Linked DNA regions of Homo sapiens: region 2 is linked to region 1. A link means that fine-mapping ties the variant in region 1 to the expression of a gene that starts in the linked region. Tissue or cell type: whole blood. Region 1 holds a variant in brackets; the other region holds the start of a gene. All regions are shown on one strand. Distances are between the middles of the regions.

What was found. PIP is the estimated chance that this variant, and not a neighbour inherited with it, causes the effect.
Region 2: NUMB starts here. The variant in region 1 is fine-mapped to the expression of NUMB in whole blood (INTERVAL, PIP 0.97).

What each region holds. Positions count from the first base shown.
Region 1 is chr14:73,323,944-73,329,091 of GRCh38, forward strand. All of the region lies in intron 4 of NUMB (NUMB endocytic adaptor protein), which reads right to left. Among named protein-coding and RNA genes, the nearest start is that of PAPLN-AS1, 81 kb to the left of the region's middle. The variant C/G (reference allele first, on the strand shown) is at 2,970.
Region 2 is chr14:73,455,947-73,461,094 of GRCh38, forward strand. NUMB (NUMB endocytic adaptor protein) reads right to left here and starts at 2,600. Exons shown (of 13, transcript NM_001005743.2): 1 at 2,547-2,600. LOC101928143 (a long non-coding RNA gene) reads right to left here. Exons shown (of 3, transcript NR_135251.1): 3 at 4,989-5,148. RefSeq lists silencers at 2,324-2,453, 2,464-2,553, 2,744-2,943 and enhancers at 2,929-3,462, 3,463-3,996.

The DNA.
Region 1 (5,148 bases):
CAAGGTCTGACCTTCTCTTGACCTCCTGACTCTAACTCCTCCTTCTCCCCTGAAGAGCAGGAGGGGCTTTCTCTGAAGCTCTCTTATCTGCCCAAAGATAGATCCTTCAAAAAGGAGCTCAATTGTTATTTATGCCCTCCCTGGGAATCTTATCAACTGGGGTAGATTAACTGTATCACAGAAGAAGAGACTAACGGTCAACACCCCAGACTCTGTCACAGGCTATCACCTATTCTTCTGAGGGCTGCTCCAGACAACTTGTATTATAGGAGAGACTTTTTATCTGCATAACAAGGCAAGCTTTGCTCACCGTGCATTTCCTCCCCTCATAGTCCCATAGGTTGTCACCACCTCCCCTCAAGTCCCTATTCCTTTCTGTAGCTCAGGATGCCATAAAAATGTCAATCATCTGGCCTTCAAGTTTGATATTTTGTGAGACTCTTATGTACAAACACATAATAAATTTTGCCTTTTTTTTTCCCTGCTAATCTATCTACTGTCAGTTTATCTCACATACTCAAATACTGAATGTTCAAAGGGTAGAGGGAAAGTTCTCTTCTCCCCAGCATCAACAAATAGTCTTGTTTGGCTTGAATATGAAATACATGCACCTGGGGAATTGAGGTGCTAAAATGGCACTTAACCCTAGAGACAATGGAGAACTAACAAAGTTTTTTTTTTTTTCAAGGTAGTAATATGATTCAAGGTCTGGTTGCAGGTAATACGGAGTAGACACACTACACCCTGTCCTTCCCACTGACTGAAACCTTAAAACCTGAACAGAATTCACAGAATAGGTACTTAAGCTTTCTGAAAAGTAAACAGAAGATGAATCAGAGTAGAATACCAGAATTCAAAGTACTATGGAAATGGCAAGGAATTTACCTCCCCTTTCTCTCTTTGGTACCTCCAGACTGAGAAAATAACTTTCATCTGAGGAATGCAAGTCCTTTTAATTATCAGGCCAATAGAGACATTAAGATGAGACTGCAATCACGCTCTACTACCCACTTTGACCCATGTATCCCTCTCCTGAAAATGCTTGCTACTGCCACAAGTAGCTAGAAATAAACCTAATAATGTCACACCAGACACTATAACCCACACCCTACCTATTGCTTAACAATGTATAGCCAATCACTAGTCAATGTTATTTCTGTAAACCAATGAGAATTCCTGACACACAACTTTTTATCAGCCCACTCCCTGTCCCCTTCTTTTGCTTTTAAAACTCCACTTGCTTGCTGGGTATGGTGGCTCAAGCCTGTAATCCCAGCACTTTGGGAAGCCAAGGTAAGAAGATCATCTGAGGCCTGGAGTTCAAGACCAGCCTGGACAACATAGTGAGACCCTGTCTCTACAAAAATAAAAAAATTAGCACACACCTGTAGTACTAACTATTCAGGAGGCTGAGGCAGAAGGATTGCTTAAGCCCAGGAGTCCAAGGCCGCAGTGAGCTATGATCACACCACAGCACACCAGCCTGGGTGATAGAGAGAGACCCTGTCTCTAAAAACCAAAATGAAATGAAGAAAACTTTTTAAAATAAAAAACAAAAATCCACCTGTAACTGCTAACTGAAGTATACATCCAGGGCAACTTCAATCTATGCTTCTGGGTTGCAATACTCAACCTTGGCCCAAATAAACCTTCTACTTACATTAATTTTGCCTCAGCTTCTTCCTTTTAGGTTGACAAGCCTGAACTTCTAGCCAGAAATCCAAAAGCGAGTGCTGTGATACAGAAAGATGTCTGGGAAAATCTCTCTAGCTCTGGTTTGAGGACCAGGAAATGGAACTCCTAAAGCTCAGAGAGAGTACAGGAGTCCCCCTCTCTTTTATTGGTTCTCTTACATCTCAGCCACCAGGAAATCCTGTGATGGTGTGATAGCAGCAGAGGTAGCAACAAAAGAAACCCCTGCAAGAGCCACACCTCTAAGGCAGGGGGAACTGCCTCTCTGTTTGGTAGAATGGTGATTCCAGGAAGATGGGGCCAATCCCCCTTTTGCTTTTTTCCTTTCTCTCTGATCTCCTGCCATTTGATCCTAGATACAAGTGAAATTGTGGGACTTCATGGTAGTGCAGGCCAACCAGAGCCCTAGGTTTCTGGCTAGAGGTCAAGAAAGGGGAGCTCCAGGGAACCAGAAAGTACCAAAGAAGGCACAGGAAGGGAGGAGCTTGAGAAAGACCATGAATTTGTTTGTGAATTCCTAGGCTCACCCTGCAGCTGCACAGGTAAGAATCTGATTCTAATTAGCATACTCAGGACTTTGACAGCTGAACTAATATACAGACCACCTCCTGGTTCCCAAACTGACCCCTAGGTGACATACACACAGAATAGATCAGAATAGCACCGCAGATCAGAATAGCATTGCAGAGGCTTTGAAAACTAAACTGATGGCCGGTCGCGGTGGGTCACGCCTGTAATCCCAGCACTTTGGGAGGCCGAGGTGGGTGGATCACTTGAGGTCAGGAGTTTGAGACCAGCTTGGCCAACATGGCGAAACCCCGTCTCTACTAAAAATACAAAAATTAGCCAGGCATGGTGGCAGGCGCCTGTAATTCCAGCTCCTCGGGAGGCTGAGGCAGGAGAATTGCTTGAACCTGGCAGGCAGAGATTGCAGTAAGCCGAGATCACCCCATTGTACTCCAGCTTGGGCAACAAGAGAGAAACTTTGTCTCAAAAAAAAGAAAAAAAAAAGAAAAAGAAAACTGAACTGATATTGGAACCACATCCCACAGAAAGTGAGTAAGAACTTGTAGCCTGAGACCTAACTGGACTGACTGGCATAGGAAATGTTCATTAAAAAGGAATTAACATTTACTGATTACCTACTGTGTGCCAGAAACTGTGCTGGATGCTTTATATATTTTGTCTAACCTAATAACTACTCAGAAAGGTATGTTTGATCACTTGATTTTAAAACTGAGGAAAGGAAATGAGGTTCAGGAGTGCTGAAAAACTTT[C/G]CCAAAGTCATACACACAGCTAGTCAGGGAAGAATATGGTTTACATTCATGACTTCAAAGTCCAAAGTTCTCACACTTGACTTTACCACAATTCAAGAAAACTTTTCCTGATTTTTCATTCCTATTATAAGGAAATTTAAAAAAAAAACAGGTTCTTTCCACATTTTTTCCTACAATTTTTAAAAATAAGAGTCCTTTCCCTGGCAAATTCTTCCTCTGGCAGGGCTGAAACTGTCAATTACAAGTGAGCCTCTCTGAAGACTCAGTGAAAACATCTAAAATAAGTTCATCATTATTCATACTTTCTCATTTCCTCTCAAGTTACAGAATTTCCACTTGGAAGAGAATTATTATTATTTTTTTGAGACACAGCCTCACTCTGTCGCCAGACTGGAGTACAGTGGTGCAATCTCAGCTCACTGCAATCTCTGCCTCCCGGGTTCAAGCGATTCTCCTGCCTCAGCCTCCTGAGTAGCTGGGACTACAGGCGTGTGCCACCACACCCAGCTAATTTTTGTATTTTTAGTAGAGATGGGATTTCACCATACTGGCCAGGCTGGTCTCGATCTCTTGACCTCGTGATCTGCCTGCCTCGGCCTCCCAAAGTGCTGGGATTACAGGTGTGAGCCACTGCACCTGGACTTGAGAATTATTAATATGAGGCGGACTAGGAGGCTTAATGACATTTTGGAATATGGTGCTGTAAAAGTACATCATTATTGAGCAAAACTAAAAAAATAGTTAAAAATCTAGTATCTGCAATTTCTGAGTAAGACTGGTTCTTAGAGATGACTCTAGCTCATATACATGGTCCTGTAGGACATAGATTTACTCATTTTTAAAAAACATACAGTAAAATTCACTCTTTTTGGTTTAGAGGTCTATGAGATTTGACAAATGTATACAGCTGTGTAACTACCACCACAATCAAGTCTGATCACTCTCAAAAATTCCCTCATGATGCCCATTTGTAATCAACTCCTCCGCCTGCCCTCCCCCACCACACCCAGTCCCCAGCCTCTGCAACTACTGATCTGTTTTCTATTCCTATAATTTTGCCTTTTAAAGAATTATCATATTGGCTGGGCGTGGTGGCTCACGCCTGTAATCCCAGCACTTTGGGAGGTGGAGGCAAGTGGATCACTTGAGGTCAGGAGTTTGAGACCAGCCTGGCCAATATGGTGAAACCCCATCTCTACTAAAAATACAAAAAGTGGCTGGGTGTGGTGGCAGGCTCCTGTAGTCCCAGCTACTCAGGAGGCTGAGGCACGAGAATTGCCTGAACCCAAGAGGCAGAGGTTGCGGTGAGCCAAGGTGGCATCAGTGCACTCCAGCCTGGGAGACAGAGCAAGACTCCATCTCAAAAAAAAAAAAAAGTCATATAAATGGAATCATACAGTATGTTCTCTTTTACCACAGAGTAGTATTTCATCATATGCATATATCACTATGTTTATCCAATCACCAGTTGAAGTATATCTTGGTTATTTCCGGTTTTGGTGATAATAAATAAAGCCATACTATTCCTTTATAGGTTTTCATATAAGAAATTTGGTCATATGGTAATTGAATGTCTGACTTTATAAGATACTCTTTCCCAAAATGTCATCACAATTTTACCTTCCCACCTGCAATGTATGAGTTCCAGTTGCTCAGCAATTGGTATCGTCTCTTTTTTAAGCCATTCTAATAGGTACATAGTGGTATCTCTTGCCATTTTAATTTGCATAATATCCCTAATGACTGATAGTTCTTGGCATCTACTTATCCACATCTTTTTTTTCTTTTTATTTGTATCCACATCTTATTTGATGAAGTATCTGTTTAAATTTGTCTATTCTTAAAAAATTATGTTTCTTTCCTGTTGGGTTTAGAGAGTTAATAATACACTCTGGGTTCAAGCCTTTTGTAGACATGTTTTGCAAATGTTTTTTCCTAGTCTCTGCCTTTACTTTTCATTCATTTTTGTTCTGAGACGGAGTCTCGTTCTGTCGCCCAGGCTGGGGTGTGCAATGGCGTGATCTCAGCTCACTACAACCTCCGCCTCCCAGGTTCAAGCAATTCTTCTGCCTCATCCTCCTGAGTAGCTGGGATTACAGGCATGTGCCACCACACCCGGCTAATTTTGTATTTTTAATAGAGATGGGGTTTCTCCATGTTGGTCAGGCTGATCTGGAAC
Region 2 (5,148 bases), 130 kb after region 1:
AATTTCTCTGCCTCAGATTCCCTTAAGTTCTCATGCCAAAGATTCTCAATATCCAAAAAAGTTCCAGAGTCAGAGGCATAACACAATATGTGACAAGACAAACACAGGAGGAACCAAATCAGAAACTGAAGAAATTTAATGGAATATAATACTCCCAAAAAAACCTTTTTTTTTTTTTTTAAGATGGAGTTTCACTCTTGTTGCCCAGACTGGAATGCAATGGCATGATCTCGGCTCACTGCAACCTCCACCTCCGGGGTTCAAGCAATTCTCCAGCCTCAGCCTTCCAAGTAGCTGGGATTACAGGCACGCGCCACCACGCCCAGCTAATTTTGTATTTTTTTTAAAGATGGGGGTCTCACCATGTTGGTCAGGCTGATCTTGAACTCCTGACCTCAAGTGATCCGCCCGCCTTGGCCTCCCAAAGTGCTGGGATTATAGGCGTGAGCCACCGCACCCAGCTTTCAGACTTTTTTAACTGTAAGAAATATATTTTATCCTTTGGCCAGGAACTCAAAAAAAGAAATACACTTTACATTGTGACCTAGTACATACATGTAGGAGAAAAGTTTCCCAAAACAATACTTTTCCTTACCAAATGCAATGTCAGTTTATTCTGTTCTACATTTTATTTTCAATGCAGGTAAAAACTCACAACATTGATTTTATAAATTACTAATAAATCACAATCCACAGTTTGAAAAACACAGGCTAAAAATGAGTATCCTTTATAATAGGATCTTTTAGGCAATTTGCCTCTACCTGTCTCTTTAGCAGGTATTTTAAAGTTGCTACCATTATTACCGGTTTCATTAAAGTAAGTGGTTCTTAAAGTGTGGTCCTCTGACCAACGTGATCATCATTTGAGATAAATATAAATTATTGGGCCCCACCCCAGACCTACTGAAACCCCCAGGTGGGGCCAAGCAATCTACATTTTACCAAGCCCTCCAGGTGATTTTGATGCAAGCTAACATCTGCGAGCCAGGTCTTTACCTTCTATTTAAGAAGTCAGGTCTTTATCGTCTATTGAACAATCCAGTACACACGACTATGTGCCAGTCACTATCCTAAAAGCTCTACAAATACCAACTCACATGAAAAAAAAAACACCACCACCACCTTATAAAGTAGGAACTATTACTATTAGTATTCTGATGAGGAAACTGCACAGAAACTTAGCTAAGTGGTGGAACTAGAACTCAAAACTTCTTTTCACTTTAGCCGAGTATGCCTACCCTCTTTCTGATAAGTATTTACTTCTACTCCTTTAGTTCAGCTACTCCTCCCCTTTTCCCTCCCAAATTCCCCACCCTGTCAATGAACCTATTTCCTAATATTACTGCCATCATCCTAAAACAAATTTCTTTTCTAAAACAAGTCACTTAACCTTGCTTTTAGGAGCTTTGCTTTGGTCCTAGATGTCATCTTGATATTAATTACGAAACTGAAGTTTCTTCTATTTGTGAAGACCTGTGAACCTACATGGCTCCACTGTTAATTTCTCATATATCTACTGTCCTAGCCAGTTCCACGAAACCATTACTCTCTCCTCGGGCAACTTTCTTTCTCTACCTTATCCCCTCCTATAGGGATTCTCTCCCACCTCCGCCCATCTCCGTCCCATTTTGCATGACTCCTCTCCGACCGAGGGAACTTCCACTCCCCTGCTGGCTCCTCACCCCGGTCTCAAACGCGAGCCACTCCTCGAGGACTTCTTTCCTGGTCCCTTAGGGATCCTCAGAGCCGGAGCGGCCAGGCCAGTTGGGTCTCCCATCCCAGCTCAGCTATGGGGGCGCAGGGAGCTCCGGTTCTTCCCCCAGGCGGTGCAAGATCTCTACTCGTCCGACCCTCCGAAGACCTGCTGCTCCTCATCTCTCCAGGAGCCCCCTCCCTTGGACAGCCGCTTTTCTCAGGAGGGTCCCCAACCCCCTCCGAGCGTTTCCTCAGACGCCCCTACTTGGAGCAAGTCTGCTCCCTGTCACCCGGGACCCTGGCCACCCTCGGCCTTCCTACCTCCCTCGGACCGGGGCCACTCCCAGTTCCCCTGCCCCCCACCCCGCTCTCTCCTCACCGGCCGCTGCCGGGCTTCCCGGATTCCTTTTCTCCCTGGCACCCAAGCCGTCCTGGGTATTCCCAAGACACCCCGCCCTTGAAGCAGGTCGTTACAGGTCACCCCCTCTCTGGGACCCTGGCCGCTTCCGTTTCCTCAGATACCTACTCCTCACACAGTGGCCGCCGGTCAGCGCGCTAGACCGGAGCAGCTGGACGTCCCAAGGGACCTCCTGGCCTGACCCGCGCGGGTCCGGCCGTAGCCTACCTTCCTCGGGAGAACTCCGCAGCCAGAAGCCCAGCCCCTCTCCCCCTAGCCCAGTCAGCGCGAACTCGCCGCCGCCCCCGCCGCCTCCGCCCTGGCCCCGGCCCCGGCCCGGGCCCCGACCCGAAGTCCAGGCCCCCTTCCTCCGGCCTCCGCCTCCGGAGTGCTGAGCTGGAGATTCCGCCCCGCGACGGCCCCCAGATCTCTGACCCGCGTTACCGGCACTCACCTGCCGCTGCCCCCGACCAACTCAAGCGCCACTGCCTCTACCTCGGCCGCCAGTGGCCACCAAGCGCCACCACCTCCCCCATGACAACAGGCCCACCCTCTTTCATACTTCTAACCTATCCATTGGATAGTGGGGCGGCAGCTCTCCTCTCTGATTGGTTTAGTATACCCGCCCGTCATCGCTCTTTACCGCCCCTTTTCCTAAACCCGGTATTCGCCCCCGCCCGGACCTGGAGCGTCCTAGCCCAAGCTTTAGTTGTAATTGGTTGAGGGTTGGGCAATTCGAAGTTATGATAGGCTGCTAAAAGTGTCTGTTAAGCTAACTGGCAAGAGACGTGACGGTTAAGGTTGATTCACGCTTGTGCACAGTTTGGTTGCGCAGTAGAAAGCAAAGGAGGGGCAGACGCTCACATTCGTGGTTACCCGGGAAGGGTTAAGTCTTTGTTGTAGAGTTTTCTCTGTAAACTTTTCCACTTCTCCAGCTCACTTCCTGCAAGGAGAAGCTTATCTCTGCTAGCTTTATTCATAGGGGTAGTACTTACAAAACACCAACATTAGAGGTTGTGTTTAAGAAGTGTTTCCAAGCCCTGGGGAGAAAGGTATCAGAGAGATAAAAATGTCCCCTTCTTTTCTTTGGTCTCAATGCATCCAATTTCATTGAAGTTCTTTCCAGGAGCCTCAATGCTAAAGGGCAAAGCGCAAACTTTCATTTAGCAGAAATCAGTCAACTTCGGTTGCAATTATAAATGTCGTCAATAAACTGAAGTGGCGTATTGAGAGTTCTCCAGCTTCCAGATCCACTCCTGGCTGACCCCTGCCAATTGACCAGACAGCCATTAGCAACTTTTTTTTTTTTTTTTTTTTTCTGTGAGACGGAGTTTCTCTCTTGTTGCCCAGGCTGGAGTGCAATGGTGCTATCTCGGCTCATCGCAACCTACGCCTCCCAGGTTCAAGCGATTCTTCTGCCTTAGCCTCCCGAGTAGCTGGGATTATAGGCATGAGACGGGGTTTCTCCATGTTGGTCAGGCTAGTCTCGAACTCCCAACCTCAGGTGATCCGCCCGCCTCGGCCTCCCAAAGTGCTGGTATTACAGGCGTAAGCCACCGCGCCCGGCCAGCAACTTTCTAATAAGCGGGCCACATTATACCCTTTATGATGCTCTGGAAATGAGAATTCTGCTTTCCCCCACCTCTCACTGCCACTTTGTTTTTCTGTTCAGCAGTTCTTAAATAGCCCTACTAGCTGTGTGTCAGATACTTTAAAAGCTTCTCTCTCTCTCTCTCTTTTTTTTTTCTAAACCTCTTCCTAGCAGTCTAAATTAGGGCCATTGAATGAATTGCCGGGTTGTGTGTGTGTGTGTTTTTTTTTTTTCCTCACTTGGCACAATGCACAAGAATAAATGATTGCATTTTTTATTCACTTGGGTACAAATCACAGTAGGCATTTTTGAGAAATCTAATGTTGCTATAAAAACTCTTGTGCTCCTAGAAATATATTCATCATTAGCTTTTTGTTTTTCCTTTTTTTTCACCCACTTTTCCTGCTCCTAAATAACAAAATGCTGGTCTGATTACTCTTTCAGTTTCTAAATCAGATTTAAATGTACTTTCTCACAACCCCACCTATGATACATATACCCATGGGCCATGAAACAACACCCAGGGATAGTTTAAGACACTGTCAGGCCGTGCGGTGGCTCATGCCTGTTATCCCAGCACTCTGGGAGGCCGAGCCGGGCAGATCACCTGAGGTCAGGAGTTTGAGACCAGCCTGACTAACATGGTGAAACCCCTGTCTCTGCAGATGGTGCCACTGCACTCCAGCCTGGGCAACAGAGTGAGACTCTGTCTTAAAAAAAAAAAAAAAAAAAGACACTGTCAAGGAGGCATTCACCTCAAGGATGTGGACTTTGGAAATGTGCTTTGTCTCTTTCTTCTTTCTGCTAACCCTTTGTCTCATATTTCTTCTATTTACTAACCTCCTTGTTCTTTGCAGAGCAAGCTACAAAGAGTCTAAAACTGTATGGTTTATTATTCAGAAAAATATTGTCTTTTTTCTAGCCTATATTTTTAGTCAAGTTTAAATAAAGTACATACTTCTATCACCAGACTAAGCAGAAATTATTCCTCCAGTAACTATACATAACAATAAAGTGCCTTTTCCTAGTTATTTTCCGGAACTTTCCTCCCCCTCCTCTCTTCCTCACCTTCCAATTTAGAAATAACCTCCCATTCAATTCAATGACTCACAAAAAGCCTGTGAAAGGAAAGTGGAAAAGCCAAAATAACTTAGAGATGTCTGAATCATTCAGCTGAAGGAAAGATCAGACATTGACCATGATAAGATAGACGCCAAGACATAAGGCAAGCCTGAGCTAACATCCCATAACATGTGAAGTAATGCAAATGTGAAGATGCCCCAAGAAAAAGCAAATACCAATATGTCCTTTTACACAGCCTTTTAATATATCACCAGCAGCTTGCTTCTCTCTAGTCTTGGCAGTGTGCCATGCTACCAATTTTAGAGCAAGTTAGAAGACAATTAATGTCCTGACAGATAGGAAACAATAACGTCATAGGAGGACATGACCATTATTATGGTAC